4 separate regions of the Homo sapiens genome follow, and regions 1, 2 and 4 are each linked to region 3. Evidence: fine-mapped expression QTL. A gene starts in region 3. Each other region holds a variant in brackets. All regions are shown on one strand. Distances are between the middles of the regions. Region 1 has its middle 29 kb from the start of GRTP1. Region 2 has its middle 9.2 kb from the start of MIR8075. Region 3 holds the start of GRTP1 (growth hormone regulated TBC protein 1). Region 4 overlaps GRTP1 (growth hormone regulated TBC protein 1).

The links. PIP is the estimated chance that this variant, and not a neighbour inherited with it, causes the effect.
Region 1: its variant is fine-mapped to the expression of GRTP1 in lung (TOPMed, PIP above 0.99).
Region 2: its variant is fine-mapped to the expression of GRTP1 in monocytes after Pam3CSK4 (Quach 2016, PIP 0.95). The same link has a PIP of 0.9 or more in macrophages, monocytes, monocytes after LPS and monocytes after R848.
Region 4: its variant is fine-mapped to the expression of GRTP1 in atrial appendage (GTEx, PIP 0.97).

Annotation. Positions count from the first base shown.
Region 1 is chr13:113,389,387-113,397,062 of GRCh38, forward strand. No RefSeq gene overlaps it. Among named protein-coding and RNA genes, the nearest start is that of GRTP1, 29 kb to the left of the region's middle. RefSeq lists an enhancer at 4,077-4,618 and silencers at 4,536-4,885, 4,896-5,005. The variant T/C (reference allele first, on the strand shown) is at 4,379.
Region 2 is chr13:113,268,315-113,275,990 of GRCh38, forward strand. No RefSeq gene overlaps it. Among named protein-coding and RNA genes, the nearest start is that of MIR8075, 9.2 kb to the left of the region's middle. RefSeq lists enhancers at 5,668-6,167, 7,120-7,414. The variant G/T (reference allele first, on the strand shown) is at 4,579.
Region 3 is chr13:113,360,280-113,367,955 of GRCh38, forward strand. GRTP1 (growth hormone regulated TBC protein 1) reads right to left here and starts at 3,851. Exons shown (of 8, transcript NM_024719.4): 1 at 3,741-3,851; 2 at 3,483-3,631. The coding sequence starts at 3,772. GRTP1-AS1 (GRTP1 antisense RNA 1) reads left to right here. Exons shown (of 2, transcript NR_120385.1): 2 at 1,280-1,589. RefSeq lists a silencer at 3,435-3,729 and enhancers at 4,717-5,410, 5,411-6,104, 6,799-7,492.
Region 4 is chr13:113,339,260-113,346,935 of GRCh38, forward strand. It overlaps GRTP1 (growth hormone regulated TBC protein 1), which reads right to left. Exons shown (of 8, transcript NM_024719.4): 5 at 5,604-5,700. It overlaps LOC124903217 (MAGE-like protein 2), which reads right to left. Exons shown (of 2, transcript XM_047430838.1): 2 at 5,707-7,676. The coding sequence ends at 6,611. Among named protein-coding and RNA genes, the nearest start is that of GRTP1-AS1, 8.6 kb to the right of the region's middle. The variant C/T (reference allele first, on the strand shown) is at 3,639.

The DNA.
Region 1 (7,676 bases), 29 kb after region 3:
CACAATTGGAGAAACTGCTTATTTTACCAAGGATTTGACTAGAATGATGTGTTTTCCTTTAAGAAATTAAACGTGACTTATAGAGCTGATAAAGCCCCTTGGGAAAACTGACCTGATACGTTCTCTCCACAGTCCTTATACAGAGTTCCTGACCCGTGGTAAGTAAAGAATGTCACTTTATGCTGGGTGCGGTGGCTCATGCCTGTAATCCCAGCACTTTGAGAGGCTGAGGCGGGTGGATCATGAGGTCAGGAGATTGAGACCATCTTGGCTAAGATGGTGAAACCCTGTCTCTACTAAAAATACAAAAAATTAGCGGGGCATGGTGGCGGGCACCTGTAGTCCCACCTATTCAGGAGGCTGAGGCAGGAGAATGGCATGAACCCGGGGGGGCGGAGCTTGCAGTGAGCAGAGATCATGCCACTGCACTCCAGCCTGGGCAACAGAGCGAGATTCGGTCTCAAAAAAAAAAAAAGTCACTTTCTCACAGGCCCAGGAGCCCCAAGTTATCTTGGAAACTCAAGAGGAGAGAAATTTACTCAACTTACAGGTATTTGAGGGTACAAACCCATGGCGGGGCTCAGTTCTAAAAGAGTCTTAGCTAAGATTCCTTCTACGGAACAGAGTTCCATCAAAGCCAATTTAAAAAGAACCTATGTGAAAAATATTCTTGCTGCCCTTTATACAAATAATCAGGCCAAGTATAATAAAGTAAATCAGTCTTACCATGATTTGCCTTTAGTAAAAATGGGAAACTAGAGAGAGAAATATTATGTTTCAGGAACTGTGGTATGTTGTTTTTAAATTCTAGTCTCATCAGTTGTTTTTAGATTTGCTTCTGGAATTTAGGCTAACCTTGCTTATTCCTGTGAACCAACCAGTGAACTCTGACTGCTGCTCAGAAGAAATAAGAGGGATGGGTAATGTAAAAATCTGAATCAATATTCTAATTCTGGGCACACTAGAATTGGCTAGCAACCTCACATCATCTTGGTTCCAATAGTTGCCCAGTTCATGAAAAGCCTTCTAATTTAGTTTACTTGGAATAATTGTACTTATTTTGCTTTACTATTGTGGAATATATTGTTGTTGTACTCTGTGTAGGTATGCAAAATAAACTTGCTCAATGTTTTCTTAAACTGAACACTTATTAATTGCCCAGATATCACCTTTTGTTGGAACTTAAGAGTTATGAATAGCCCTCACCACACTGATGCCTTCTGACTGTGCTCCTCTCTACCCTGAACACAAGGGACCCTAATAGTTAGGCAGGAATGTCATCGCCCCTATTCAGCCTGAAGAAGTTACAGAAGATGGATCTTCATCCCCCTGCAACTCTTAGGATTAAGGGTTCTCTTATAAAAGGGAAAGAGAAAATGTCAGGCATGTTTGAACCAGAGCAACTCCATCTTGAGTAGGAGCTGGGTAAAATGAGGCTGAGACCTATTGGACGGCATTCCCAGGAAGTGAGACATTCTAAGTCACAGGATGAGATAGGAGATTGGCACAAGATATAGATCATAAAGACCTTGCTGATAAGACAGGTTGCAGCAAAGAAGCCGGCCAAACCCACCAAAACCAAAATGGCCACAAGAGTGACCTCTGGTCATCCTCACTGCTACACTCCCACCAGCTCCGTGACAGTTTACAGATGCCATGGCAACGTCAGGAAGTTACCCTATATGGTCTAAAAAGGGGAGCATGAATAATCCACCCCTTGTTTAGCATATCATCAAGAAATCACCATAAAAATGGGCAACCAGCAGCCCTCAGCTGCTCGCCTATGGAGTAGCCATTCTTTATTTCTTTATTTTCTTAATAAACTGGTTTCACTTGTCTCTATGGACTCGCTCTGAATTCTTTCTTGCGCGAGATCCAAGAACGCCCTCTGGGGGTCTGGATCGGGACCCCTGTCTGGTAACAACTGCAGATATCTCCCTCCAACACATTGAGCTGTGTGTTGATGTCTTGGAACTTGCTAGCTGTGAATTAACCTAACAATGCCATCCCCCACCCTGCAACCCACACCCTGCAGCTCAACGGTGCACAGCCCATCACTAATCAATGTTATTTCTGTCAACCAACAAGAATTCCTGAAAAACAACTTTGTATCAGCCACTCCCTGTTCCCCTTTTTGCCTTTAAAATCCTGATTGTAATAAAGGCCTAATGGGGCTCATATCCAAGGCCACTCGAGTCTCCCAGGCAGCTGTCCTCACCTTGGCTCAAGTCAACTCTTTAAATCATAATTTGCACCTCAGCCTCTTCCTTCTTGTCACCCTTACGTAAGTGGGATCCCACAGAATTTGTCCTTCTGTGTCTGGCTAATTTCACTCAGCATGGTGTCCTCAAGCTTCACCCAAGTTCCAGGGTAGGGAGGTTTTCATACAATTTTGTAGCCCGCGTAACCTCTCTACTGTGGGAGGTGCTCCGAAAGTGAATTTGGTTGACTCTCTTTCCTCCTTGAGCTTTTCTTGGACACATTTCTGGCTTGGTGGGCCAAAGTCTGCTAAGAAGAAACTCATCTCTGTCCATCAAAGGGGGAAATGGTGAGGGCTGTATGCCCTGGGAGCGGCCACCCTCTCAGAAGACACAGAAACAGAGCACTTTAACCTCCTTCTATCAAAGTCCTAGAAGAGGAAGGTGTGCTTTAAAAACAGACTCTTCTCATGAATCCTGTTGAAGTCTCACTCACTCTGTTGCCTAGGCCGGTGTGCAGTGGCACCATCTCAGCTCACTGCCAGCTTTGCCTTCTGGGTTCAAGCAATTCTCCTGTCTCAGCCTCCCAAGTAGCTGGGACCACAAGTGCCTGCCACCATGCCCAGCTAACTTTTTGTAGAGATGGGGTTTTGCCATGTTGGCCAGGCTGGTTTTGAACTTTTGAGCTCAAGCGATCCACTCGCCTCAGCCTCCCAAAGTGCTGGGATTACAGGTGTGAGCTACCGCGCCCGGCCTTTTTTTTTCTTTCTTTTTTCTTTTATTAAGACAGGGTCTTGCTCTGTTGCCCAGACTGGAGTGCAGTGGTACAATCTTGGCTCACTGCAGCCTCAACCTCCTGGGCGCAACTCATCCTCCTGCCTTAGCCTCCCAAAATGCTGGGATTACAGGCATGAGCCTCCGTGCCTGGCAGTGGGATCCTCTTTACCTGAACTGCCCAGGGACCTCCATAAGTATCCCTGGCTGGGGGCCGTGGGTCACGCCTGTAATCTCAGCACTTTGGGAGGCTAAGGTAGGAGGATTGCTTGAGCCCAGGAGTTCAAGACCAGCCTGGACAACATAGCAAGACCCTGTCTCTACAAAAAAATACAAAAATTAGTGCATACCTGTGATCCCAGCTACTCAGGAGGCTGAGGCGGGAGAATTGCTTGAGCCCAGGAGGTTGAGGCTGCAGTGAGCCATGATTGCACCACTGCACTCCAGTCTGGGCGATAAAGTGAAACCCCGACTCTTAAAAAAAACGGGCTGGGCACGGTGGCTCACGCCTGCAATCCCAGAACTTTGGGACGCTGAGGCCGGCGGATCACCTGAGGTCAGGAGTTCGAGACCAGCCTGACCAACATGGAGAAAACTCCATCTCTGCTGAAAAAAAAAAATTAGCCAGGTGTGGTGGCACATGCCTATAATCCCAGCTACTCGGGAGGCTGAGGCAGGAGAATCGCTTGAACCTGGGAGGTGGAGGTTGCAGTGAGCCGAGATCGCGCCATTGCGCTCCAGCCTGGGCAATAAGAGTGAAGCTTGGTCTCAAAAAAAAAAAAAAGTATCCCTGGCACCTTCTCACAGACAGAACAGGGAAAAGGAGGGGCGGTTTACATCCCTGTGGAGCACAGCAAACCCACACAATGAGCCTTTCAGGTGTGGGGGGCAGGAGCAGGGCGGGGGCTGTCTCCCAGGGACCATCAGTCGGTTGGCTCAGGGGCTCAGGAGCCCAGGCCCGATGCCAGGAAGCTTCTCACCCCTAAGGAGAGGACACGCAGTCAGTCCGACTGGCAAAGTGGCCGGATCAGCGCCTGGCTGTGCCACCCCACATGGAGTGCCACACGCGGTCACAACAGCCCCATGACGTAGGTCCCAGTATTACTATTTTAGGGAAGACTGTGGTACACGCACCCGGACACACAGTTGCACATATGGCCACACAGGCCTCCACCTCTACTACCCAGACAAGTGCCCCAGTGCGCATCACACATGCACATGGGTGTGTACACAGCCTGCCCAGACACAGCCCTCCACAACACAGGGACCCACCCATGCACACACGCGTGTGCACACACACCAAGCAGACACGGCCCCTACACAACACAGGGACCCACCCATGCACACACGCGTGTGCACACACACCAAGCAGACACAGCCCTCCACAACACAGGGACCCACACATG[T/C]ACACACTAAGGAAATGTGGAAACACTACGTGACCTCCGGTGGCAAGGCCATGGCTGGAAGCCCTGCAGCCTCTCCGGCTTCCAGGTCCTGATGCCAAGGCTGCCCCTCCCAGAATCCACGAGGAGGTCACCGTCCCCGCTCCGCACCAGGGAGGGGCTCCAGAAGCCCGGAGGCCAGCGCCGAGGTCCCCGCACGTACGCCTGTGTCCCCGGCTCTGGGGAAGGCAACCGTCCCTTAGGGGGCCGGGAACCTGCGCGCCGCCCCGACTCCCGCCCACCCCGGCGGCTCCCGGCGGCTCCCGGCGGCGTCCGGATGTGGCAGCAGCTCGCGGGCCGGGGCTTCCTCTTGCAGCAGCCGCCGCCCGGGAGGCCGGCAGCGCCCCCTGGCGGACTCAGGCAGGAGGCGTCCGGCGAGGCGGGCGCGGGGTAGGCGGGCGCGGGACGGTGCAGCCCGAGGCCTGTCCCTGCAGGTGCAGGAGGGACCCGTCGCTCCCCTGCGCACCGAGGGGGCGACAACCCCTCCCAGAGACCTGCTGCCCGCGGAGCCTCCCCCAGTGACTCGTGCGGTCCCCAAAGGAGAGGCGGGAAGCCGAGTCCTGGAGAAGCCTGGAGACAATGGGCAACAGGGGCATTGGGCCTCCGTCCAGCCCCCGCCAGCGCCCCAGGGTCACACATAGGCCTTTATTTTCTGATCCTGAAAGTGATGCAAGTGCATTTAAATTAACGCAGAAAGCAGTGACAGATAACGACGGGAAAACACACCTACACATCGGGTGTTCGTGGATAACCACTGCTCACCTTTTTTCGCGTTTCTCTTTCTTTGCCCCCTTCACACGTATTTACATATTTGAATCTACTATTTTATACTGGATTTTTTTTTTCTTTTTGAGGTGTAGCTTCACTCTTGTTGCCCAGGCTGGAGTGCAATGGCGCCATCTCGGCTCACTGTAACCTCTGCCTCCTGGGTTCAAGCGATTCTCCTGCCTCAGCCTCCTGAGTAGCTGGGATTACAGGCGTCCGCCGCCACCATGTCCAGCTAATTTCTGTATTTTTAGTAGAGATGGGGTTTCCCCATGTTGGCCGGGCTGATCTCGAACTCCTGACCTCAGGTGATCCACCCTCCTTGGCCTCCCAAAGTGCTGGGATTACAGGCATGAGCCACTGCGCCCGGCCTTATATTGGATTTTAAACATTAAATGGTACAATATTTTCCATTTCACAAAGTTCTTCCTCAGCTAATTTTAAATGACTGCTATTTCACTGAATAAGACACCACACTTTATTTAACTAATCTCTTTTTTTTTTTTGAGAGGGAGTCTTGCAATGTTGCCCAGGCTGGAGTGCAATGGTGTGATCTCGTCTCACCGCAACCTCCGCCTCCTGGGTTCAAGCGATTCTCCTGCCTCAGCCTCCCTAGTAGCTGGGATTACAGGTGCCCGCCACCACGCCCAGCTAATTTTTTGTATTTTTAGTAGACACGGGGTTTCACTGTGTTGGCCAGGCTGGTCTTGAACTCCTGACTTCGTGATCCGCCCGCCTCGGCCTCCCAAAGTGCTGGGATTACAGGCGTGAGCCACCGCGCCTGGCCAACTAATCTCTTAATTGGTGGACATTTGTGTCACTTATGGCTGTATCTTGAGTAGTACCACGCTGGACAGATTGCTTTTCCTAAATACAGTTTCTCAAAGCTGGAATTGCTGGGCTGAGGAGCCACCCCTTCTAAAGGTTCTTGACATTATTGCCAAATTGCTTTATAAAAAGGAAGGGCCAATGTTTGGTCCCATCAGGAATGACTGTCTCCGTACATCCTCAGAGGTAGTGAGTGTTACCGATTCCTTTTAAAAATTGGGGGTTTTGGTTCTCAACTTGATAGACCCATGAGAGTTCAACTTCATGTCTTTGACCACCACGCACGCAGTATGTGGTCCGATACGGCACGTCCACCGTGGATGTTGATGGGGACAGCCCCGTGTGCTCCAGTATGTGGTCCGATACAGCACGTCTGCTGTGGGTTTTGATGGGGGCGCCCCTGTGTGTTCTTTTTTTTTTTTTTTTTTTTTTTTTGAGACGGAGTCTTGCTCTGTCGTCCAGGCTGGAGTGCAGTGGCACAATCTCGGCTCACTGCAAGCTCCGCCTACCAGGTTCACGCCATTCTCCTGCCTCAGCCTCCCGAGTAGCCGGAACCACAGGCACCCACCACCACGCCCGGCTAATTTTTTTGTATTTTTAGTAGAGACGGGGTTTCACCGTGTTAGCCAGGATGGTCTCTATCTCCTGACCTCGTGATCCGCCTTTCTTGGCCTCCCAAAGTGCTGGGATAACAGGCGTGAGCCACCGCGCCCGGCCCCCTGTGTTTTCTTGAGTGCAGGGGGCAGAATCCATCCTGGGGAATTTGAGCAGAAAGGGACATGGTGAGCAGTGTGACAGCTCCCAGCTCCTTGCAGGACTAGAGGAAAGGCCTCCAAGCCCAGCTCTGCACTGGCTAATGAGCTTCCTTCTCTCAGCTTCCCTGGAAACATCTTTCTCTGCACACCCAGGAGACTCCATATCACCGGCTCGTCCTCACCGTGGGCCCAGAACCTGCTGTGCCCTGCCGGCCTGGGGAGGTTGCGTCTCCCTGGCAGAGCTGCATGCGTCCCAGCAGCAAGGAAGGCTGGGGATGTGGGATGTGGGACTGCCGTGCAGAGAGAAGACAGGATTCATGTTGTGGGGAGCTGTCAAAACGTAGAAAAATAGCCCCACTTTTGGGGCTCCCATGAAAGACTGGGGTCTTATTCATATGTTTGAGCCCCTTTGGAATTTGAAATGAAGCCGAGTTCCCTTCCTAACGACACAGAGCTCGCAGAAGCCGCCTCTTCTCTTGGGCGTCCACCGTCAGCTCTTTCTGGACTTTGTTCTTCCTGTATGTGTGCGGCTTCCTGCCGTTATCAAAGTCCAAGAATTTCATCAGTTTCTTATTTTGTTTTATTTTTTAACATTTTATTCATTTTTTTTTAAGATACAAGATCTTGCTATGTTTCTAGGCTGGCCTCAAACTCCGAGGCTTACGTGATCCCCCCACCTCAGCCTCCTGAGTAGCTGGGACCACAGGTGCTGCCACCGCACCCGGCTTCTTGATTATTTTATCATCATCATTATTGATTGAGCAATGGAAATCTGTAACTTATTTGGTGCTTTTTTTGGGTTCTTATTTCTTCAAGATTTGGAAAATTCTTCCCTACGTGCAGATTTGCTGGTGGGTTGAGCGCCTTCTTCCAGTTGGGGATTAAGACATGACTTCCAGTGGTACAGGCCGTAA
Region 2 (7,676 bases), 92 kb before region 3:
ACCCTGTGGTGGGTTTGGAAGGAGAAACCAGGCAGTGGCCAGGCCCAGGCCTTGTGCAGCAGCCCGGGAAGTTCAGGGGAAGAGGAGTGCAGGTGTTAGGACCGCCTAGTAAGAACGTTTAGGAGATGGAGGTTTTGTCAACAGACTGAATTCAGAAAGGGCTGGAGGGGGCAGAGGTGACAGTTGGGCCATGTGAGAGTGAGAGGCCCAGCAGTGATGGGGGACAGGCTGGTGGGCTCTGGTGAGGGAGGTCAGCTCGAGGGATCTGAGACATTGTGAAATGATGGTCTCTCAGGTAAATTTGTGAGGGTATATTAAATTCGAAAATGCCCACACCTTTGACCCAGTAAGTTCCTTTCACTCACGTAGAATGATTTCTAGTACTGTTCTCGCACACACAGAAAATACCTTAAATGTCCTTCAATAAGGAAACAGACCATGTGCTAAGTCCATGCATGTGTGATATTCTGACCATGCAGCTTGAACCAAGATCTAGATGTCCATTTGGAGTGAGTGTCAAGAAATACCACGTAAGAAAAGAGAGCAGTGCCGTCCTGCCACCACTGTGTGTGCGGCCCGTGTACGTGTGAATAACGACGGCTCAACTCCAGAATGGAGTTCTGGAAGGCTGCGAGCAGGTATGCGAGAATCTTTTCTATGCATATACCATTTTGTATTTTTTTAATTTTGTGTCAAAAGAATGTTTAAAAGTAATGACAAATTATTAAGAAAACAAAATGGCCCCACCCACTGTGTTGTTTCTTTACCATAAAACACAAGGAATCAGCCAACCCAAAGTAATTGCACTTCCCCGCCCGCTCTCCTCCCAACCTAATCCACTGTTGTCATCAGTTATTTTATGGGTTACCTTTGTAATTGTAATGGACATATTGAAACCCTATTCTCTCGATCCATGAATATACTCAGTTTCTCATGAAAACCTCCTGTATTGGCAGGCCAGGCACAGTGGCTCACACCTGTAATCCCAGCACTTTGGGAGGCCGAGGCGGCGGATCACGAGGTCAGAAGATCAAGACCATCCTGGCTAACACAGTGAAACCCGTCTCTACCAAACAAAAAATTAGCCAGGCGTGGTGGCGCACGCCTGTAGTCCCAGCTACTCGGGAGGCTGAGGCAGGAAAATCACTTGAACCTGGGGGGCAGAGCTTGCAGTGAGCCAAGATCGCACCACTGCACTCCAGCCTGGGCGACAGAGCGAGACTCTGTCTCAAAAAAAAGAGAAATGTAATCCTTTGTTTGTGCAGCTCAAAGAATATTCTAAGCATCAAAGACAAGCTATTTCTTTCCACATTCCATTAAAGCTGAAAATGTATGTCATGTTTTAACTTGCTTTATATTTGCACTATGGCATTTTTGTCCAGCTTTTTTTTTTCCTGGAGTTTTTAATTGCTACTGATGACCAAAAAAAAAAAAAAAAAAAGATGCCTTTTGTCTTATCACTAAGATAATTTCCTTATCACAGTTTGCATAAACCCAATTTTTTTCTTAAAACACACATTTCGGAGCTGGTCACGGTGGCTCAAGCCTGTAATCCCAACACTAGGAGGCCGAGGCAGGAGGATCATGAGGTCAGGAATTCCAGACCAGCCTGTCCAACATGGTGAAACCCCATCTCTACAAAAAATACAAAAATTAGCTGGGCGTAGTGGCTCGTACCTGTAGTCCCAGCTACTTGGGAGGCTGAGGCAGGAGAATCGCTTGAACCCAGGAGGATGAGCTTGCAGTGAGCCGAGATTGCACCATTGCACTCCAGCCTGGGTGACAGAGCGAGACTCTGTCTCAAAAAAAAAAAAAAAATCATTTATCAGAATCCTCTAATAGTGGTTTTCTTGTTGTTTTGGGGTTTTCGTGGTTTTTTTTTTTATATGGAGGCTCACTCTGTCATTCAGGCTCGGGTACAGTGGTGCAATCTCAGCTCACTGCAACCTCCGCTTCCCAGGTTCAAGTGATTCTCCTGCCTTAGCCTCTGGAGTAGCTGAGATTACAGGTGTGTGCAACCACACCTGGCTAATTTTTGTATTTTTAGTAGAGACAGGGTTTCACTGTTGTCCAGGCTGGTCTCAAACTCCTGACCTCAAGTGATCTGCACGCCTCAGCCTCCCAAAGTGACAGGATTACAGCTGTAAGCCACGGCACCTGGCCCTCGGATAAGTAGTTTGGTTTTGGTTTTGAGACGGGAGTGCAGTGGCGCAATCTCGGCTCACTGCAACCTCAGCCTCCTGGGTTCAAGCAATTCTCCTGCCTCAGCCTCCTGAGAAGCTGGGATTACAAGCGTGTGCCACCACGCCTGGCTAATTTTTTTTGTATTTTTAGTAGAGATGGGGTTTCACCATATTGGTCAGGCTGGTTTCAAACTCCTGACCTTGTGATCCGCCTGCCGTGGCCTCCAAAAGTACTGGGATTACAGGCGTGAGCCACCGCGCCTGGCCTAATAGTTTTTTAAATTGAACTATGGGCCAGGCATGGTGGCTAACACCTATAATCCCAGTACTTTGGGAGGCTGAGGTGGAAGGATTGCTGGAGGCCAGGAGTTTGAGACCAGCCTGGATAACAGACCTCAGCTCTACAAAAAAATTTAACAATTAGCCAGGCATGCTGGTGCTTGCCTGTAGTCCCAGCTTCTCAGGAGGCTGAGGTGGCAGGATCACTTGAGCCTGTGAAGTTGAGGCTGCAGTGAGCTATGATCGCACCACTGCACTCCAGCCTGGGCGACAGAGTGAGACCCTGTCTCAAAAAATAAATTAATAAATAAAAATAATATAAATAATACAATGAATCAGCTGGGCGCAGTGGCTCACGCCTGTAATCCCAGCACTTTGGGAGGCCGAGGCAGGCGGATCATGAGGTCAGGAGATTGAGACCATCCTGGCTAACATAGTTAAACCCCATCTCTACTAAAAATACAAATAATAATAATAATACAATGAATCATTTGCCTCTTTTTTTTTAAGAGACGAGGTCTCACTGTGTTTCCCAGGCCAGAGTAGAGTGCCCTGGCCATTCCCAGGCACAATTCGATGCACCCCTACTTCCGGCCACATCATTTGGCTTTTGAGCCCCTGCATAGCTGTGATCCTGGAACCCATTTTCTCTGCATTCCTGTGTAGTTCCACTCCTTGGATCTCAGTCTTCTCTTTTTCTTGTCTTCTGGTTTTATTAAGTAGATTCTTTTTTTTTTTTTTTTTTTGAGACAGTCTCACTCTGTTGCCCAGGCTGGAGAGTGCAGTGGCACGATCTCAGCTCACTACAATCTCTGCTTCTTGGGTTCAAGCGATTCTCCTGCCTCAGCTTCCCAAGTAACTGGGATTACAGGTACACCACCACGCCCAGCTAATTTTTGTATTTTCAGTAGACATGGGGTGTTGCCATTTAGCCAGGCTGGTCTCAAACTCCTAACCTGCCTCAGCCTCCTGAGTAGCTGGGATTACAGGCACACGCCACCACGCCCAGCTAATTTTTGTATTTTCAGTAGAGAAAAAGCCAGGCTGGTCTCGAACTTCTGACCTCAGGTGATCCACCCACCTCGGCCTCCCAAAGTGCTGATTATAGGCGTGAGCCACTGTGCCGGGCCTCATTAGGTAGATTCTTAAATGATCTTCTCAGAAAGAATGCCTGGGAGACAAATTTCCTGAATCCTGGCTGGACTGTTTTTATTTTACACTTGTGTTTGATTGTTGGTCTACATAAAAACTCTAGGCTCAAAATCACTTTCCCTCAGAACTTTGAAGGGATTGCACTGCCATAGTCTTCTATTTTCTAGCTCTAAAGTCTGATGCCATTTTGTTAACTAACCTGTAGTTCTTTCATGTCACTTTTGGAATCTTCTGTTCCTGGACTTTTGGTATCTCACAAGAGTGTCTCGGTGTGTGTCCACTTTCATTTGGCCTCTGCCAGCCACCCACTGAGCCTTCAGACTGGAAGACTCCGGACTTCTGTTCCAGGAAGTGTTCTTTTTTGACATTCTACATTGCCTCTTCCCCTTCAACTTCTTTGCTGTCACTTTCCTTAGCACTAATCTTTCTAAGTAAACCAACTGGAAGGTCTAATGAGAAGAAGGGCTGGCCTCACCCCTCCCCACTCATAGTTCACTGTCCATCTTTGTTTCTGGTTAGCTTTTCTCTTGGTGGCCTCTATTATCAGATTATTGTTTCTTGGTTTTCTTTTTAATAAAAGATTGTTTTATGTTTTTATATTATTTCTTATTTTTCTTTTTAATAAAAAATTGTTTTTATTTTATTTCTAGAATATCTTCTTGAACCTCAAACTGTCCTCAATGGGTTAGCAGGAATTACACGCCGGGTTCTGGGCAGAAATGGAGTCATAACTAAGCATGAATCAGGCTGCACTTTGGCCCACTTCCTTGTAACTGGAAGTCTTGTAGCCCTGGATACTGATCATTTGCACCCCCATTATTCTCATAGATAGGACCACTGACGTTAGAACCATAAGGCTTTAAACATTGCTTAATATGTTTTTCAGATCCTCAATTCCAGCAGAACAGCTGACATCAACCAGTCAAAGGCTCCCACAGGGCGCTGAGGCGGCATGAGAATGCAG[G/T]TTCTTCATCCCCCCATCCCATGATTTTAGCCTGCACTCTTCAACCCATCAGCAACTCCCACACCTCGGCCACTCCGAAACCCTTAAAATCCCCAGCCCCAAACTCCTCTGAGAGGCGCGTTCAAGGCTTCCTCTGTCTCTTGTTCAGTTCCCCTCTGGGTGTTAAGCTCCGTCTCTGCTGCAATCCCCAGTGTCTCAGTGTACTGACTTCCTGCACATCAGGCAAATGATGTTAGGATTAAAATTACACACCAGTGGGGCGCGGTGGCTCAAGCCTATAATCCCAGCCCTTTGGGAGGCCAAGGTGGGCAGATTGTTTGAGCCTAGGAGCTCAAGACCAGCCTGGGCAACATAGTGAAAACCCATCTCTACAAAAAAATATAAAAATTAGCCAGGTGTGGTGGCACATGCCTATACTCCTGGCTGCTCAGAAGGCAGAGGTGGGAGGATTGCTTGAGCCCAGGAAGTCAAGGCTGCAGTGAGCCATGATGGCACCACTGCACTCCAGCCTGGGCAACAGCGCTAGATGCCGTCAAGAAAAAAATTGAACTAGTGCCTCAGAGAGTTGTCAATTTTTTTTCTTTAAGACAGGTCTCAAGCTCAAGCACGTGTGTTGTGATCTGGGCCCCCATTCGTCAGGCTTCTGAAGTCGTGTTTTTAGGCACAAGCCTGTCCCCAAGTCTATAGCATCTGGTGCACAGTGCTCAGTAAACACTGAGGAGTGAATGAAGCAGGGCCAGTGGAAGGAACAAAGACCAGCAAGATAAGAATGGGGAGAAGTACGAGTGTGACAGAACAAAAGAAGGGAGTTTTAAGGTATGGTGAGAATCAGAAACAGACCATCACGGTGGCATCTCGGGCCATTCAGTTTGTGTGCTGGGCCCGACGGGTAGTGGGTGCGGCGAGATGTAGCTGGAGGCAAGGCAGAGGCCAGGGAGAGCTGCTCTCGGGTAATGAGAATTGAGCAAGCATCAAACTGAGCAAGCAAGAGAGAAAAGGGGAGAATCTGAGCATACGGAAAGGAGAAATAACTGCGGGCAGGTTTCCCAAACAGCAGGGGAAACCACATCCCCGCGCAGCGTGCTCCTCCCAGGGAACAGAACAGGGAAACCACATCCCCGCGCAGTGTGCTCCCCCGGCAGAGGTCCTAAGGAAGCCGAGGGGCGGACAGCCGAGCAGAGGTAAGGCTTTCTGTGGTCCGTGATGGAGGAACCAAGGCCAACTGCAGCACAAGTTGAGGGAGCATTGTACTGAGAAGTGGACGCCTGCCAGGAGTCCACTCTTCACAGAATGAACAGCACCTTCAAGGCACTGGGATCAGCAGAGAAGCTTTAACACTGGCCAGGTCCCCCCTCTGCCAGGTCCTCCATCTGTCACTCTCCAGGTGCCCCTGAGCAAATTCCTGCAATTCTTTAAACCTTGGTTTTCTTATAAGTGGAGATAATAATCCTACTTACCTCATGGGGTGGTTCCAAGTGAACACACACAAAGCTGCTTAGGACACGTACTACACACCAGCAAAGAGGAATGAGTCACAGTCACGCACAAGCACAGTGCCTCTTCATCAGGAAAACCCAGTTCCATACAAATCTAAGTGGCTTATCTTCAGAAACATTAGTGAAGAGCTGAAGCAAACACTGTCAGCTGGGAAGTCTGTATTCAGTGAACATACATTTCTGAATGGAGGCAAAGTATGCCTTTTCAGACAGAGACCTCTAGTAGGAGAAGTGCAGGAGGAAGGAGCTTCAGCTGCTGGAAAGCAAAGCCAGATAGAAGCCAGGGTCTGCCGAAGGCCTGGGGAGCGCCCGCACTTGCAAGCATTTGGGTAGACACTCACACAAATTAGCTACACAATCATTATTTTCTTTAAAAACAACTGTTGAAAGCAAAAATAATATATGTTGGCATTAATACCATATGTAGAAGTAAAACGAATGACACGACACAAAGAATGGGGAAAGAAATGGTCTGGTGAGTGTGATGAGCTAGAGATGCGTGTGACAGCCCTGGGGGAAAGGGGAGATGGTCTAGTGAGTGTGATGAGCCAGAGATGTGTGTGACAGCCCTGGGGGAAAGGGGAGATGGTCTAGTGAGTGTGATGAGCCAGAGATGTGTGTGGTAACCCTGGGGCAGCCACTAACAATACCAGAGAGAGAGGCAAAGAGAGAAAGAACAAGCCAACAGAGGAGACAAAGTATAATTTGAAAGAACACTCAATCCAAAGTGTTGACAAAGAGTCAAACTGTGAAATATTTGAAGAGATTTATTCTGAGCCAAGTATGAGTGACCAATGGCTCATGACGCAGCCTCAGGAGGTCCTGAGAACATGTGCCCAGGGTGGTCAGGACACAGACTAATTTATTTTTAGGGAGACATGAGACATCAATCAAATACATGTAAGATGTACGTTAGTTTGGTCTGGAACAGGGGCTGTGGGAGGCTTCCAGGTTATAGGTAGATCTAAAATGTTTCTGATTGGCAATTGGTTGAAAGAGTTATTATCTAAAGACCTGGAATCAACAGAAAGGAATGTCTGGGTTATAATAAGGGGCTGTGGAGACCAAACTTTCACCATGCAGATGCAGCCTCCAGGTGGCAGGCTTCAGAGGGAACAGATTCTCATGAGGCTTAAAGAGTCTGTTCTATCAATAATTCCAAAAGGCGGTATCATGAGTCATGTCTGACCCCTGCCCCCATCATGGCCGGAGCCAGCCCTTCAGGTTAGCCTTGGAAATGCCCTCCCTGATACAGCGGTCCATTCAGATGGTCTGAGGGGGCTTTGAATTTTATGTTTGTTTTACAAAAGGCAGACAGGAAATTCTTTTTTTTTTTTTTTTTCAGATGGAGTCTTGCTCTGCCACCAGTCTGGAGTGCAGTCATGTGATCTTGGCTCACTGCAGCCTCTGTCTCCTGGGTTCAAGCAATTCTCCTGCCTCAGCATCCCGAGTAGCTGGGCTACAGGTACCCGCCATCATGCCCAGCTAATTTTTATATTTTTAGTAGAGACAGCGTTTCAACATGTTGGCCAGGCTTGTCTCGAACTCTTGACCTCGTGATCTGCCTGCCTCTGCCTCCCAAATTGCTGGGATTACAGGCGT
Region 3 (7,676 bases):
ATTTGCTATGGAAAAAGGAAAATACAATATTTATTGTACCCACCAAGAGTGTGATCAGGCAGAATACATAATAACTGTCCCTTAAGACATGTGGAATGCTGAGATTGGTAGATGATTGTGTTCCTGGAGACTTTAACATGGGGAGTGCAGATGAAAACCCTCCAAAAGGAGAGGAAAGAACTCTATCACTGTCAGCCTGGAATACCTGGCAGGAAGAAGTGGTATTCCCATTTTTGGAATAACTCGTCCACTCCAGTTTTATACCCGACCCTCTGCTCTTGGGGCTTTGCCAGTGCTCATGGGCACCCTGACGGTCACACTGGGACCCAGGCCCCAGGCCAGTAGAGACACGCGATCACTGACTCCATGTGCCTCCCACCGGAGTCACCAGCATCCCTACTCCCTGCAGAACAGGCCCACAGCCCTGTGGCTCCCACCCCTCAGGCTGAGGCTCATATAGGATCAAAGAGATATATTTGCTCACAGACCCATTTATGCCAGTGATGCTTGCTACCATAATTACATGGTCCACTTAACATTACATAAATTAGCCCAGCATGGTGGCTCACGCCTGTCATCCCAGCATTTTGGGAGGCTGAGGTGGGCGGATCACTGGAGCTCAGGAGTTCGAGACCAGCCTGGCCAACAAGGCAAAACCCATCTCTCCTAAAAACACAAAAATTAGCCGGGCATGGTGGCGAGTGCCTGTAATCCCAGTTACTCAGGAGGCTGAGGCAGGAGAATTGCTTGAACCTGGGAGGCAGAGGTTGCAGTGAGCCGAGATTGCGCCACTACCCTCCAGCCAGGCTGACAGAGCTAGACTTTGACTCAAAAAAAAAAAAAAAAAAAAAATTAAAGCAAAAAGAAGAAAGTTGTTACTTCAATAAAAACAAAATGAAATTTTTAGAAAGAGTTGATAGAGACCAATGCTAAAAAAAAAAAAAAAAAAAAGCAAAAACAAAACTGTTGACTTAGGTGTAAAATAATTGCAAAGGAGTGGGGAAAAGAATAAAAATCTGGAGGATTTTGCATCCGGATTGCTCTTTTCCTTTTCCCTGCTCTTCCCAGAACCCCCTCCCAAGTCCATATTGGAAAGTGGGGGCAATGTGCTGAGTGGTTCCCTAAAAAGGAAAATATGGAACCCAAGTTAGCAGCTCCTGGTCGAAGAAAAGGACAGCAATAGGACAGACCCAAATGGCAAAGGCAAAGACGGGAGAATGACTGTGCAGTTGTGTTTTCTGTAAAAACAAAAATTTATGCACAACCATACATCTTTCAGATTCTCCGCTGTAACCAACCTCCAGGTCACAGCCACAGGACTTCCCACGGACTTCCCCTGCTCTTAAAGCAAACTGCAGAACCAAGCGTGGACTTCTGCTCCTGAGGGGGACGGAAGGACAGTCCCCTGCGGTCATCTCTATAGGAGATGGGGGCCATGGGTGGGAGAGAAACTCCCTGTTGCACTTTGTAGCCCTCAGTATGATTAAAGTGTTTACCATGTACATAAATTATGCTTTTTAAGTTCACATGTCTTATATACTTTTACGTTACTTTTTAAAATTAAAAGACAGTTAACTTTTAAGAATAAATCAGGCGCAGTGGCTCATGCCTGTAATCCCAGCATTTTGGGAGGCCAACGTGGGCAGATCCCTTGAGGTCAGGAGTTTGAGACCAGCCTGGCCAATATGGTAAAACCCATCTCTACTAAAAAATAGAAAAATTAGCCTGGCGTGGTGGTAGGTGCCTGTAATCCCAGCTACTTGGGAGGCTGAGGCAGGAAAATCGCTTGAACCCAGGAGGCAGAGGTTGCAATGAGCTGAAATCATGCCACTGCACTCTAGCCTGGGCGACAGAGTGAGACTCCGTCTCAAAATAAAAAAAATAAGAAAATAAAAAATAAATTAGCCAGGTGTAGTGGTGTGCACCTGTAATCCCAGCTACTCAGGAGGCTGAGGCAGGAGAATCACTTGAACCCAGGAGGTGGAGGTTGCAGTCAGCTGAGATCGCACCACTGCACTCCAGCCTGGGCGACAGAGTGAGACTCTGTCTCAAAAATAAATAAATCAAAAAGAATAAATGAAAAGGAAAAATAAAGACACACGTTCCACTGGAAACATGTGAACATGCAGAGGCCACAGGGATGGGACATGATGCATTCGTGGGAAGCATATAGGATATTAACTTCCATCTCTATAAAAAATTTAAAAATTAGCCAGGAGTGGTGGCCACACCAGTGGTCCCAGCTATGCGGGAGGCTGAGAGGGGAGGATGGCTGGAGCCCAGGAGGTCAAGGCTACAGTGAGTGGTGATTGTGCCACTGCACTCAGAGGGATACCCTGTCTCAAATAAATAAATAAAAGCAAAAGTTGATCTTGTCACCCCCTGCCTGGAAAACCTTTAACAGTTGGCTTCTCTGTGCCTGGCCGTGGTCACCACACACCTCCGACCCTCCGCCCAGGTGCAGGGCCCCTGGTTTCATCTCTGTCCTTCCCCACCAGGTCCCTACTGCTCGGTCCCTGGAAGCCCAGCTGCCATTCACATCCCCCTTCTCAGGAAGCCCCCAGGACTCCCCTTTGACCCCACTTCTCTGAGTTCCTAGCTCCAGGGCACACTCCCACCAAGCCCTCACCCCAGGCAGACACTTCATTCATTCACTGAACACACAGGGAAGTCGCCTGGCACTGCCCCAGGTTCTGAGGACTGAGCAGTGAATGAAAAATCCGTTGCAGGGAGGAAGGGTTTTTGACTCCAGCAGGGGCTGTGCTGGGAAAGGCAGAAATGAGGAGGTGCCCTCCGCACAGGGAAGCCTGGGGCGCCCCGGAGGAGGGGGCCCTGCAGCTAACCCCGAGGCGGGCGGGCGGTCAGGCCGGTGCTCACCGCAGCAGTAGGAGGCCTGGGGTCGCGGAGGAGCGGCAGGTCGAGCAGGGCCCTGTGGGTCCCGTCACAAGGACGGAGTCTCGCTCTGTCGCCCAGGCTGGAGTGCAATGGCGCAATCTCGGCTCACTGCAACCTCCGCCTACTGGGTTCAAGCGATTCTCCTGCCTCAGCCTCCAGAGTAGCTGGGACTACAGGCAGGAGCCACCACGCCCGGCTAATTTTGTATTTTTAGTAGAGACGGGGTTTCACCATGTTGGTCAGGCTGGTCTCAAACTCCTGACCTCGTGATCCGCCCGCCTCGGCCTCCCAAAGCGCTGGGATTACAGGCGTGAGCCACCGCGCCCGGCATGGATCGAGTTTTGATCCATCCCGATATGGCTCCCTGCTGGGAGGGACGGGTCTCCTTCGCGTCCGACCCGCCGGCCCATCTCAAAGCGGGAAAACCGGTCCCTGCGGCTGCCCTAGCTCGGAGCCCGCAGCTTCGTCCCGACCTGCCCGGAAAGGTTCCTCCCCCTCCCTCCGCTCCGGGAGCCCGGACTTTGCCCGGCCCGTCCCAGCCCAACCCACCTGCGCCCTCGGGACCCACCTGCGCCCCCGGGACCCACCTGTCCGGCTCCTGGGGACGCCCCCGCCCTGCAGCAGCCGGGACCATTTGATCGCCCTGCGGGTGAGCGTGACCAGGTAGCTGGAGAAAAACTTCTCGTAGGCGGCGTCGTCGAAGTCCTCAGGCCGCTCGAATCCGTACGGGTCGATCCTGCAAAACCGAGAGAAGGAGGCCGGCGTCCCCGAAGTTTCCTCTGGGGGGTCGCGGGCCCGCGCGGGGACCGCAGCCGCCGGGGACGCCCGCACCCCGCGCCACACACCTGGGGACCCGCGAGCGCTCGGCGGGCTGCATGCGGGGAGGGAGGCGCGCACCGAGCGAGGCCAGCGGGTCCCAAGTTCGCCTCCCGGCTCCGGGGCGCTTAAGTCCTTCCGGCGGGACCGCGGGCGCGTGGGGGCGGGGCGGGGAGCGGAGAGGGGCGGGGCTGGAGGCGGGGGCGGGGGGGGGCAGGGCGGGGGGAGGGGCGGCTGGGGGCGGGGAGGACTTGGGGAGAGAGGAGGGGCAGGAGCGGGGGAGGGGCAGGGGAGCACCCAGGGCGGGGGAGGGGCGGGGCTGGGGGCGGGAGGACCTGGGGAGAGAGGAGGGGCAGGAGCGGGTGAGGGGCGGGGGAGGGCCGGGGGAGGGGCAGGGGAGCACCCAGGGCGGGGGAGGGGCGGGGCTGGGGGGGCGGGAGGACTTGGGGAGAGAGGAGGGTGGGGGCGGGGCGGGGCCTGCTCCCGGGGCTTCCGAGGCCGCGGCGTCCCGCGGGCAGAATCGGGGGCGCCTCCCGCAGAACCCCCGCGGCCTGGACCCGGGTGAGAGGAGCTTCTTCTGCGATTCCTTCAAACCTCAGTGCCTGGCCGACCCGACTCTGACACCTGACTCCTATTTTTATTTTATTTTTTATTTTCTCCGCTGCATTTCAAGGCCGAGACCAACACACAAATGAGAAGCCCCCAGGGGCGCCCGCCCGTTCCTGCCCCCCCAAACCAGGGACCGGGGTCCCCCCACCGGCGAGCCAGGCCTGGGAGAATCCGGGGCAGCTCTGGTTCCGAACGGCTTCTTCTCGGTCCGCATCCAATGACATTGTCCTGAGATTTCAGCTGCTTTTCGTGTCCGGGAGGCCCCGGAAATTTGCCAGAACTGCAGATTTTGAATTTTGCTCTGGCGACGTGGCAAAGGGGAGCCCCCAGACGTGAGGCGCTGGGGCGACCTCGCCCTGGGTCCCCCAGGGGTCTGGAGCGGGGGCTCCTCCGACAGGCCTCTCCCCGCCTGTAATTTAGGCCCAGGGCGACCTGGACAGGCCCCAGGAGGAGGCCGTCCCCGGACTCCAGACGCACTTTCCTGTGAGAAGCAGCCCGGCCTCGTCTGGGTGAGGCGAGGATCACAGGCTCAGCGTCCCCTGCGCGTCCGTCAGGGCCTTTCGGAACCAACTTGGGACCTTCCCATGGGTGTTTCCGGAATGTTCCATGCGAGCGCCACCCAGGAGCCTGGTCAGCAGCGTGTGGAACGGACCGGTCCCTAAGTGCGGACTCCCGCCTCTGCCTTTCACCCTTCTCCAGCCCTTGCAAGACCGGGGGGCGGGGTGGGGGTCAGTGCCCAGCGGAGCAGAGCCCCCGACACGGTTCCTCCCGTTCCTAGTCTGCTGGTTCTGGGAACTCCCCAAGCTTTCAGCCCAGCTCCTCAGCACTGGCCTTTGGTAACACGCGGCGTCCCTCATTTGAAAGATCACACAGCCCCCACTCTACGGTCTGACCTCCTTGGGATGTTTAGACCCAAGCCAGGAGACAGGGCCATAGCCTCCTGCCCCTCGGCCTACGGGTGCCCCACAGTCCAGGACTGACAGGTGGGCGTCCGTCCCCAGGGTCTTCGAACCCCGTCTGGGCTCCTCTCTGCCTAAGTCAGTGACTCCCTGAACCCCTCTCGGGCTCTAACTGACGCCCGAATTTCCTATATCGCATCCCTCGCGCTTTCTGGAGCAACAGACACAGTCCTGCTCCCCACTTCCCAGCACCCGGGGTCCTGCGCCCAAATCGCCCCACACCGCGCAGCTTCTGTTCCAACCCCAGGCCTGGAAGCCTCACGGCTCCCCTTTTCCCTAATTCCTGCCTTCTGGCCATGGAGATGGGGTTCTAACCTCCCTTTCCCACCACTGCCGTGGAAAGCAGCGTGGCAGGCAGCACGGACCAGGGGCCGCCAGCTCCCGAGCCTGAGTGTGATGGCGGGACTGCCACCAAGTGTATTTTTGGGCCAGATGTAGGGAGACTGTGGGGGAGCAGGTCAGATAAGAGCGGTGCCCTCCAGGAAGAGTGGAGAGGAGAGATACAGAGAGGCCAGAGCCCCAGGCTCTGTGCAGGGTGGGCAGCCAGACCGAGGCAGCTAGAAAGGTCTCCCGCTCCAGCCCAGGCCTGGCCAAGCCCCAACCTGGGACCTGACTGGGAGACAGCAGCTCCTATCTGGAACAGCTCCCACCTGGGACAGCTCCCACCTGGGACTGTGTCCCTCAGGTGCCTCCATTCACCGCCCCCCCGACCCCAGTGCCAAGCACCCAGCAGGCACCCGAGCATCCTCACACAAACTCCCTTTCTGTGAAGCCACCAGCACAGTCAGCCATGATGCAAAAGCCAGGTGCACACCCACCCCAGGAGTGACTGTGCTGGCCACAGCCGCTCCAGACAGCCCTTTCCGGGGGAGGCTTTGCAGTGCTGGAGCTCTGGGTCAGCTTGCCCTGCAGTTCAGGGACTCAGAATTCACCCTCCCCCGGGGGACCCAGCTCCCTTGCAGGAGGCCCTCTTCAGTCTGAGGGGCCTCAGGGGCCACACCAGGGGGCCTCTGTGGGGTCACCACCCATGATGCCCCTCCTCCCTTCAGGAATTCAGCCGTCTTGTTGCTTTTTTTTTTTTTTTTTTTTGAGTCGGAGTTTCACTCTTGTTGCCCAGGCTGGAGTGCAATAGCTCAATCTCGGCTCACTGCAACCTCCGCCTCCTGGGTTCAAGCGATTCTCCTGCCTCAGCATCCCAAGTAGCTGGGATTACAGGCATGCGCCACTACGCCCAACTAATTTTGTATTTTTAGTAGAGACGGGGGTTTCTCCATGTTGGCCAGGCTGTTTTCGAACTCCCGACCTCAGGTGATCCGCCCACCTTGGCCTCCCAAAGTGCTGGGATTACAGGCGCGAGCCACTGTGCCTGGCCCTTGTTGCTTTTTTTGTAGAAGCTGCTGCCCTTTGGAAGTTAGAAGGGCTTCAGGAGTACTTCAGTTCTGGGGTGCCCATCAAGATAGAAGGAACGTCTAGCATCCCCAAGGCCGGGAGGACCTGAGAAAATGGGATGTGAGTACAGAGGACAAAGATAACGGCAGCAGAACCCACCGAGCAGTGATGAACCATGACGTGGGCATCTTCGTGGAGCCACAGCATGTGCCAAACCCCACGGAGCTCCAGGCTGTCCTGGAGGCTGAAGCCAGTCAATTGACCACATGCTGCCTGGTTACAGGAGACGGGCAACTGGGAGTGGGGAGGGTCACCCAAATCTCACTGCAGGAAATTCCAGTGCAGTGCGACTCTAGCCCTGAGGGGAGGACAGGTCTTGCCAGAGACCTGTGGGTCCTGGTGCTGCAGAGCTGGCTGGGGACTGGGACGCTGCATTTCCAACCTGCTAGCAGGAGGCCCTGCTCTGGCCCATGGACCGCATTGTGCAGCCAGGCTGTGGAACCCGTGGCCTGATTTTCAGCAGAGGGCTGGAGACAGAAATCGGCGGCGAGGGGGCAATGTTATAGGTGGAAAGGGTGTGTTAATATTTCAGGGAGAGTCAAGCCCTCATCTGAGGTGTGTGTGTATATACATACATAATAATATATAACAGTAATGATTATTTTTAAGGAAAATTGACAGATAAGCTTTACCTGAGCCCTATGATCCTGGGAGGTTAGGAAGTCCCCCCCTTTATGTTCTGGAAACAGCTCAGAACCCTGTCCCCAGGTGACAAAGATGAGATTCATGATGTCCCTTATTTACCTGTGACAAGGCTGGACACATCCTCCAAAGTCCTGTCTTTTGCCTCATAAATATGTAACTGAACTGTTGTTCTAATTGGAACCAAATACACTGGTGACCAGTTCTGGTTAAGTCTCCTCCAGGGCCCTGACCGTGGGCCCAGTGACCAGTTCTGGTTAAGTCTCCTCCAGGGCCCTGACCATGGGCCCAGTGACCAGTTCTGGT
Region 4 (7,676 bases), 21 kb before region 3:
CCTTTGTTAATTATATGGATCAAAGATACTTTCTCAAACCAGCAGCTTATCTTTTTACTTTGCTTATGATGTCTCTTACCAAAATTAGTTTTTAAATTTTCATGTAATTAAAATTATCAATGCCTTTTATACTTTTTGAATTATGTTCAAGAACTTCTCCCCTACTCCCACATGACACGACTGTTCTGTATTTTGTTCTCTGAGTTTCAAAGTTTTACTTTTTTACATGAGTCTTAAATCCATCTGGAAATGAAATAAGGGTTTAATTTTGTTTTCTTCCATACAGTCAACTGTCACTGAATTATGTTTTAAACAGTCTTTTTCCCATTAATTGATATATCTCACAAAAGACATTCCCATAAATTAATAGATCCACAGACTGGTTGATTTCTATCTGGCTTCGCAATTTTGTTCCATTGGTCTGTTTATCCATTCATAACCTAATACCACACCATTTTAATTATTAGAGCATTATAATATATCTCTAGTGTTCTTCTTTCAAGCCTTCTTGGCTTGGCTTTGCCCTTGATTATTCCATATGATTAAGCCATCCTTGGATTTCTGGAAAAAACTATCTTCAAACTAAAAAAATACTTCATAGTCACCTGTAGATTCAAGTTGCTAACATTAATAATTAACAATTACATACTTCTATTCATCAGTGAGATTAGTCTGTATGGTGTGAAGGCTATACTAGCTTCATAACATGAAGTGATGAGAGTTTCTTTTTTTTATTTTCTGCAAGATTGATTAATTAATCAGTTATTTAGACAGGGTCTTGCTCTGTCACCCAGGCTGCAGTGCAGTGGCACTACCACAGCTCACTGCAGCCTCGACCTCCTTAGCTCAAGTGATCCTCCCACCTCAGCCTCCTGGGTAGCTGGGACCGCAGGCATGCACCACCCAAAGTGCTACGATTACAGGTATGAGCCACAGATTTATTTTTAAAAAACAGGAATTAATCACAGCCCTTTGTGAGGCCAAGGCAGGAGGACTACTTGAGGCCAGGTGTTCAAGGCCAGCCTGGGCAACATAGCAAGAACCTGTCTCTACAAATAAAAAAAAAAAAATCAACTAGGCATGGTGGTGCCCACCTGTGGTCCCAGCTACTCAGAAGACTGAGGTGGGAGGATCACTTGAGCTAAGGAGGTCGAGGCTGCAGTGAGCCATGATCACACCACTGCACTCCAGCCTGGGTGACAGACTGAGACCCTGTCTCTAAAAAATACAATAAAATGGCCAGGCGCTGTAGTTCACGCCTGTAATCCCAGCACTTTTGGGAGGCCAAGGTGGGCGGATCACCTGAGGTCAGGAGTTTGAGACCAGCCTGGCCAACATGGTGAAACCCCGTCCTTACTACAAATACAAAAATTAGCCGGGCGTGGTGGCGGGCGCCTGTAGTCCCAGCTACTCAGGAGGCTGAGGCAGGAGAATGGCGTGAACCCGGGAGGCGGAGCTTGCAGTGAGCCGAGATTGCGCCACTGCACTCCAGCCTGGGCGACAGAGTGAGACTCTGTCTTGAAAAAATTAAATAAATAAAACAATAAAATAAAAACATTAAAAAGCAGGAGTTACCTGTTCCTTCACAGTTTGATAGCAGTAAAAACCCAGTGTGTCCATGCACACACCCATCAGATGTTCTATTTTCTCTCTCAAGTCAACTTCGTTAGGCTGTTTTTTTCTCAGAATTATCCATTTCTGTCTCTTCATTTTTTTCTTTTGATTCTTAAAAATCTCTACAAATCTTCAAATTACAGCACCTTTTCATTTCTACTATATCTTATCCTTTTTTTTTTTTCTTTCTGAGATAAGAGTCTCACTCTGTCGCCCAGGCTGGAGTGCAGTGGTGTGATCTTGGCTCACTACAGCCTGTTCTAAACTCACGAATGCACCAATCACGACTGCACCATACGCTTGAAATGGGGGAACTGTGGGATATGTGGATTATACCTCAACAAAGATTTCTCTTCAGTGTCTGTGCTTTTATGTATGTGTGTATGTATGTATGTTTGTATATATTTATTTGAGACAGGGTCTTGTCCTGTTGCCCAGGCCTGAGTGCAGTGGTGTGATCTCGGCTTTCTGCAACCTCTGTCCCCTGGGTTCAAGCAATTCTCCTGCTTCAGCCTCCCAAGTAGCTGGGACTACAGGCACCCGCCACCACGCCCAGCTAATTTTTGTATTTTTAGTAGAGATGGGGTTTCACCATGTTGGTCAGGCTGGTCTCGAACTCCTGACGTCAGGTGATCCTCTTGCCTCAGCCTCCCAAAGTGCTGGGATTACAGGCGTGAGCCACCGTGCCCAGCTACATTTTTTTCTTATCAGTCTTACCAGAGGTTTGTCTATTTATCAGTTTTCCCAAAGAACCAGATTTTTGTCTGAGTTTATCTTTTCTTCTGTTTCTCTGTTTCTGTCGCTAATTTTCAGTCCTTCATGTGTATGTTTATATCGGTCTATAAAAACTCTGGAAATACATACATCAGACTGATGATAACAGTTACCTCTGAGTAGGAGATAAATGGGGATGTGCCAGTGAAGGCGGGTCGTCACTTTTGTTTAAATTTTTATTTTTAGAGATGGGAGGGGTCTCACTTTATTGCCCAGGCTGGTCTCGAACTTCTGGGCTCAAGTGATCCTCTCACCTTGTGGCCTCCCAGATGCTGGGATTATATGTGAGCTACTCTGCCCGGCCCTGTTTTTTTTTGAGATGGAGTCTCGCTCCGTCTTCCCACACTGGAGTGTAGTGGTGTGATCTAGCTCACTGCAACCTCAGCCTCCCTCAAGCTGATTCTTGTGCCTCAGCCTCCTAAGTAGCTGGGATTACAGGCATCTGCCACCACACCTGTCTAATTTTTGTATTTTTAGTGGAGGTGGGGTTTTGCCATGTTGGCCAGGCTGGTCTTGAACTCCCCTAAATGCCTGCCTCGGTCTTGCAAAGTGCTAGGATTACAGGCGTGAGCCACGGCTCCTGGCTGTCACTTTTTATTCTATAAAAAGTACTGTTGGGAGGCCGAGGCAGGCGGATCACGAGGTCAGGAGATCGAGACCATCCTGGCTAACACGGTGAAACCCCATCTCTACTAAAAATACAAAAAAAAATTGGCCAGGCGTAGTGGCGGGCGCCTGTAGTCCCAGCTACTCGGGAGGCTGAGGCAGGAGAATGGCGTGAACCTGGGAGGCGGAGCTTGCAGTGAGCCATTGTGCCACTGCACTCCAGCCTGGGCGACAGAGCGAGACTCAGTCTCAAAAAAAAAAAAGTACTGTATTTTTTGAACTTCTGAAATGAGAATATATCTGTGTATTTCTTGTATAACTTAAAAGCAGCAATTAAGAGCAGGATAACAGTGGCACTGAAACGACCTAGTTTGGGTAACTATAACTTCGAGGATGGATTTTAGAGCAGGATGACTGTGGCACTGAAACGACCTACTTCGGTCACTGTAACTTAGAGAAGGACATATATTTGCCTCTTTTCTCTGCCGCTGGGAGAGCTCTGCCGGGATCGGAATAACCCCCTTTTCCTCCCATGATCCTAACAGTTTAGTTTTTGTACTTTCTTTTCTTTTTGAATCCAGACCTATTTGCATTGCAGTTTCGTTCAACTTAATCTCATAATGAATATCGGAAGTGACGTCGTA[C/T]GGACTGAAAACGCATCTGTCCATCACACCAGCACGGCGGGGCCTGCTCCTGCCCTCTAGGTTGGTGCTGAGCCCTCCGACCTGAGCTCTCACCTGCTGCTGCTTGAGGTCTGCCCTCCACAAAGACAGGAACTCGTGTGTGCTCACCGATGTTTCCCACACCCCTGAACGGCGCCCAGAACACGATAGGTTTTCAACAATATGTGGTGAAAAGAACTGCATGGCCCACGGCTGTGAAGATTCGCCATGATTTGCACTCAGACATAACCGAAGCAGGCTGTGAGCCCGTTTCCATGTCCTACCAATCCCACATTTGGATGTCTCCTAACTCCATCTGCCTCTAATTTCACCATTCCACCTGGTCCAGGTGTTCACCGAACTGAGCTGAGACAGCCGGCATCCTTTCCGCCCTGCGAGGTTCTGCCTGCTGCTGCTGCTGCTGCACTGGGTCCCTGGGCCCCAGCCGGGTCAACAGCTCTTCCCACTCCCGGGAGCTCTGTGGGGTTCCCTTCCTCTGGGGCGGCTCCGTCAGGCTGGTCTCTGGCATCCTCATTTCTGCGCCCTTGGGTTGAGGGTGGCGCTGATTCCTCCCTGCCCTTAATGATGCACTTGAGCTTTGCCCCATCCGTGAGGACACACACTATGGTCTGTGAGTCACACAGCCAGGATCTGAACCAGGCTCTGCCATGTACAGCGGTGGTCAGGCCAGCACGCAAATTCTCCCGGCCTTCGGTGTCCTCACCCTGGAAATGGGGTGGGTGACTGTGTCCGTGTGGTGTGGCTGTTCTGAGGACAAGCGCAGCTCAGCAGGAAACTGACACATGCCGTGTGCTCACCAGGCAGGAGCTGGAGCCACACACCCCCAGGCTCCAAACACTGGGGACTGGCCCGGCTGCCCCTCACGTCTCCTCTGCCCTGCAGGATGAGCACGCAGCCCCCTTGACCCAGCACCACAGCCAGGCTGGGGAAGGGCAGAGTGGTCTCAGCCCCAGGCCCTGCCCACCCGACTGATCCTCAGCTTCTCTTCCCAAGTGACTTGAGCCTGCAGCTCATCGTCTGCACTGGCCTTCACCATAACCCGTGGATAACTTATCCACTAATAAATACACTTTAATTATTAAATAATTAAACATTAATAAATAGAAAAGTGGAAAGGTTTGAAAAGAATGGTTTTCACCTTAAAAAGTAAGTAATTACTTAAAAAGCAACCATGGATATATATAGCGCAATTATTATGCTCTTACTAGTATTCACAAACTCAGTACAAATACATACATAAAACCAAGATAGCCTCTCAGAGATTCTGTGATCAATACAAACCACACCGTGGCCCTCAATAGGCACAGAAGTTACCAACTGAGGAAGGGGTGAGCCAACCACACAGCCCCAGCTGCCCACAAGGGCTAAGAGACGGCAAAAGGCCCTCTGCCGTCCCAGGAGCAAGCAGTTGCTGCAGCCGGACCCTGGCCACTCACATGGGTTTCTCCTTTTCAACTCAATTTCAAAGAAATTTTTTTACTGCAAAAAGATTTTTGGCCAGGCATGGTGGCTCATGCCTGTAATCCCAGCACTTTGGGAGGCCAAGGCGGGTGGATCACCTGAGGTCAGAAGTTTGAGACCAGCCTGACCAACATGGTGAAACTCCATCTCTACTAAAAATACAAAATTAGCCGGGTGTGGTGGCACACACCTACAATCCCAGCTACTTGGGAGGCTGAGGCAGGAGAATCACTTGAACCCGGGAGGCAGAGGTTCCAGTCAGCCAAGATCACACCACTGCACTCCAGCCTGGGCATCAGAGCGAGACTCCGTCTCAAAAAAAAAAAAAAAAAAAAAAACGGTTTGTAACCTCATCTCCCAAACAATTCAACCATGTTTTAATTAAATTTTGATTTCTCAGCGGAATCATTTTGGCAGCACCAGAAACAGGACAGTTCGGGCATACCGCAGGAATTTTCAACATACCTGGTAGTATTCTTCCAACAAGAGCATCTAACAGCCAAAAAGATTCTTCTTCATTATTTGTTATAAGAATCAGATATCCTGCTATAAAATTCATTCCCTGAAATTAGAAAAATGAGAAACAAATTCACATTGAGTTTTAAGCCCCCATTTGATTCTGCAATCATTCGGCTACAAACTACCCAGTTTCCATTTCTCTTGCTTCTCCTTAAAACCTGCATAATTGCAGAATGATCCTTTAGTAGAACTCTAGAGTCACTAAATACCTACCGTCTAGTAATGTGTTTAGTCAAGCTTACGTGAAAAGTAAAAGCAAAAGGAAACAGTTTAAAGAAATCCTGAATACTAAAATCAAAGACTCTTCCACTAATGGTAACCTTGTGATAAAAGAACATAACTTACCATTGCTTTCTAAAGAAATTACTATATATCAACAGCATGAAACTCTCTGCCAGAGAGAAAATTATACCAATGACCACATTTTATAAAACCGTAAGGAACATGTGCTGACACGCGGGTGTTAGGAGAATTTCGTGGTGGAGACCCTTTTGGGAAATCCACGTGCACACCTGCCAAAGGGCGGGTGCTGCCTCCAACATCACGTATGTGACCCTCTCCATCGAGGGCAGCCCCAGACCCTGGGGGCTTCGCAGCCGTGAGTCAGCGCCATTTCCAGGTGACTGCGTTTTACACGACTGAAATTCTCTTCTTTGTCACTCATTTGTAATTTCTAAAGTAAGTATTTCTCTAGTAATAAGGGAAAAGAATCCAGCTTCTGCCAGCCCACAAGATCAATTCACGTGATCGGAAGTGCGGAGGGGCAGCTGCAGAGAGCGATGCTGGCAGCAGCGCGGCGGCTTCAGTCACACAGGGATGTGGCGCTGTTCACCCGGAGCCAAAGCACTGGAGGACGGGCACGCAGCCTTACACGTCCCTTGGCCTGGACCTCCCCTTAAAAACAGACCCTAAGAGTTTCACTCAAAAAGCAAAAGTAACCAGTGCAGAGAAGATCATGTTCCAGAAGATGACGATGGAAGCTCTGGGAAGAACCGACTGCTTCGAGCTGATGACGGAAATGCTGGGAAGACCTCTGTGGCCAAAAGCAGACCCAGGAGGACTTTTGTGGCCGAGAGTGGACCCGAGAGGACCTCTGCGGCTGAGCAGACCTGGGAAGACATCTGTGGCCGAGAGCAGACCCGGGAGGACCTCTGCGGCTGAGCAGACCTGGGAAGACATCTGTGGCCGAGAACAGACCCGGGAGGACCTCTGTGGACAAGAGCAGACCCGGGAGGACCTCTGTGCCTGACAGTGGACCCGGGAGGACCTCTGTGGCTGAGAGCAGACCCGGGAGGACCTCTGTGGCTGAGAACAGACCCGGGAGGACCTCTGTGGCCGAGAGCAGATCCGGGAGGACCTCTGTGGCTGAGCGGATCTGGGAGGACCTCTGTGGCAGAGAGCAGACCCGGGAGGACCTCTGTGGCCGAGAGCGGACCCAGGAGGACCTCTGTGGCTGAGAGCGGACCTGGGAGGACCTCTGTGGCTGAGCAGACCTGGGAAGACATCTGTGGCCGAGAACAGACCCAGGAGGACCTCTGTGGACAAGAGCAGACCCGGGAGGACCTCTGTGCCTGACAGTGGACCCGGGAGGACCTCTGTGGCAAAGAGCAGACCCGGGAGGACCTCTGTGGCAAAGAGCAGACCCAGGAGGACCTCTGTGGCCGAGAACAGACCCGGGAGGACCTCTGTGCCTGACAGTGGACCCGGGAGGACCTCTGTGGCTGAGAGCGGACCTGGGAGGACCTCTGTGGCTGAGCGGATCTGGGAGGACCTCTGTGGCAGAGAGCAGACCCGGGAGGACCTCTGTGGCTGAGAGCGGACCCGGGAGGACCTCTGTGGCTGAGAGCGGACCTGGGAGGACCTCTGTGGCAAAGAGCAGACCCGGGAGGACCTCTGTGGACAAGAGCAGACCCGGGAGGACCTCTGTGGACAAGAGCAGACCCGGGAGGACCTCTGTGCCTGACAGTGGACCCGGGAGGACCTCTGTGGCTGAGAGCGGACCTGGGAGGACCTCTGTGG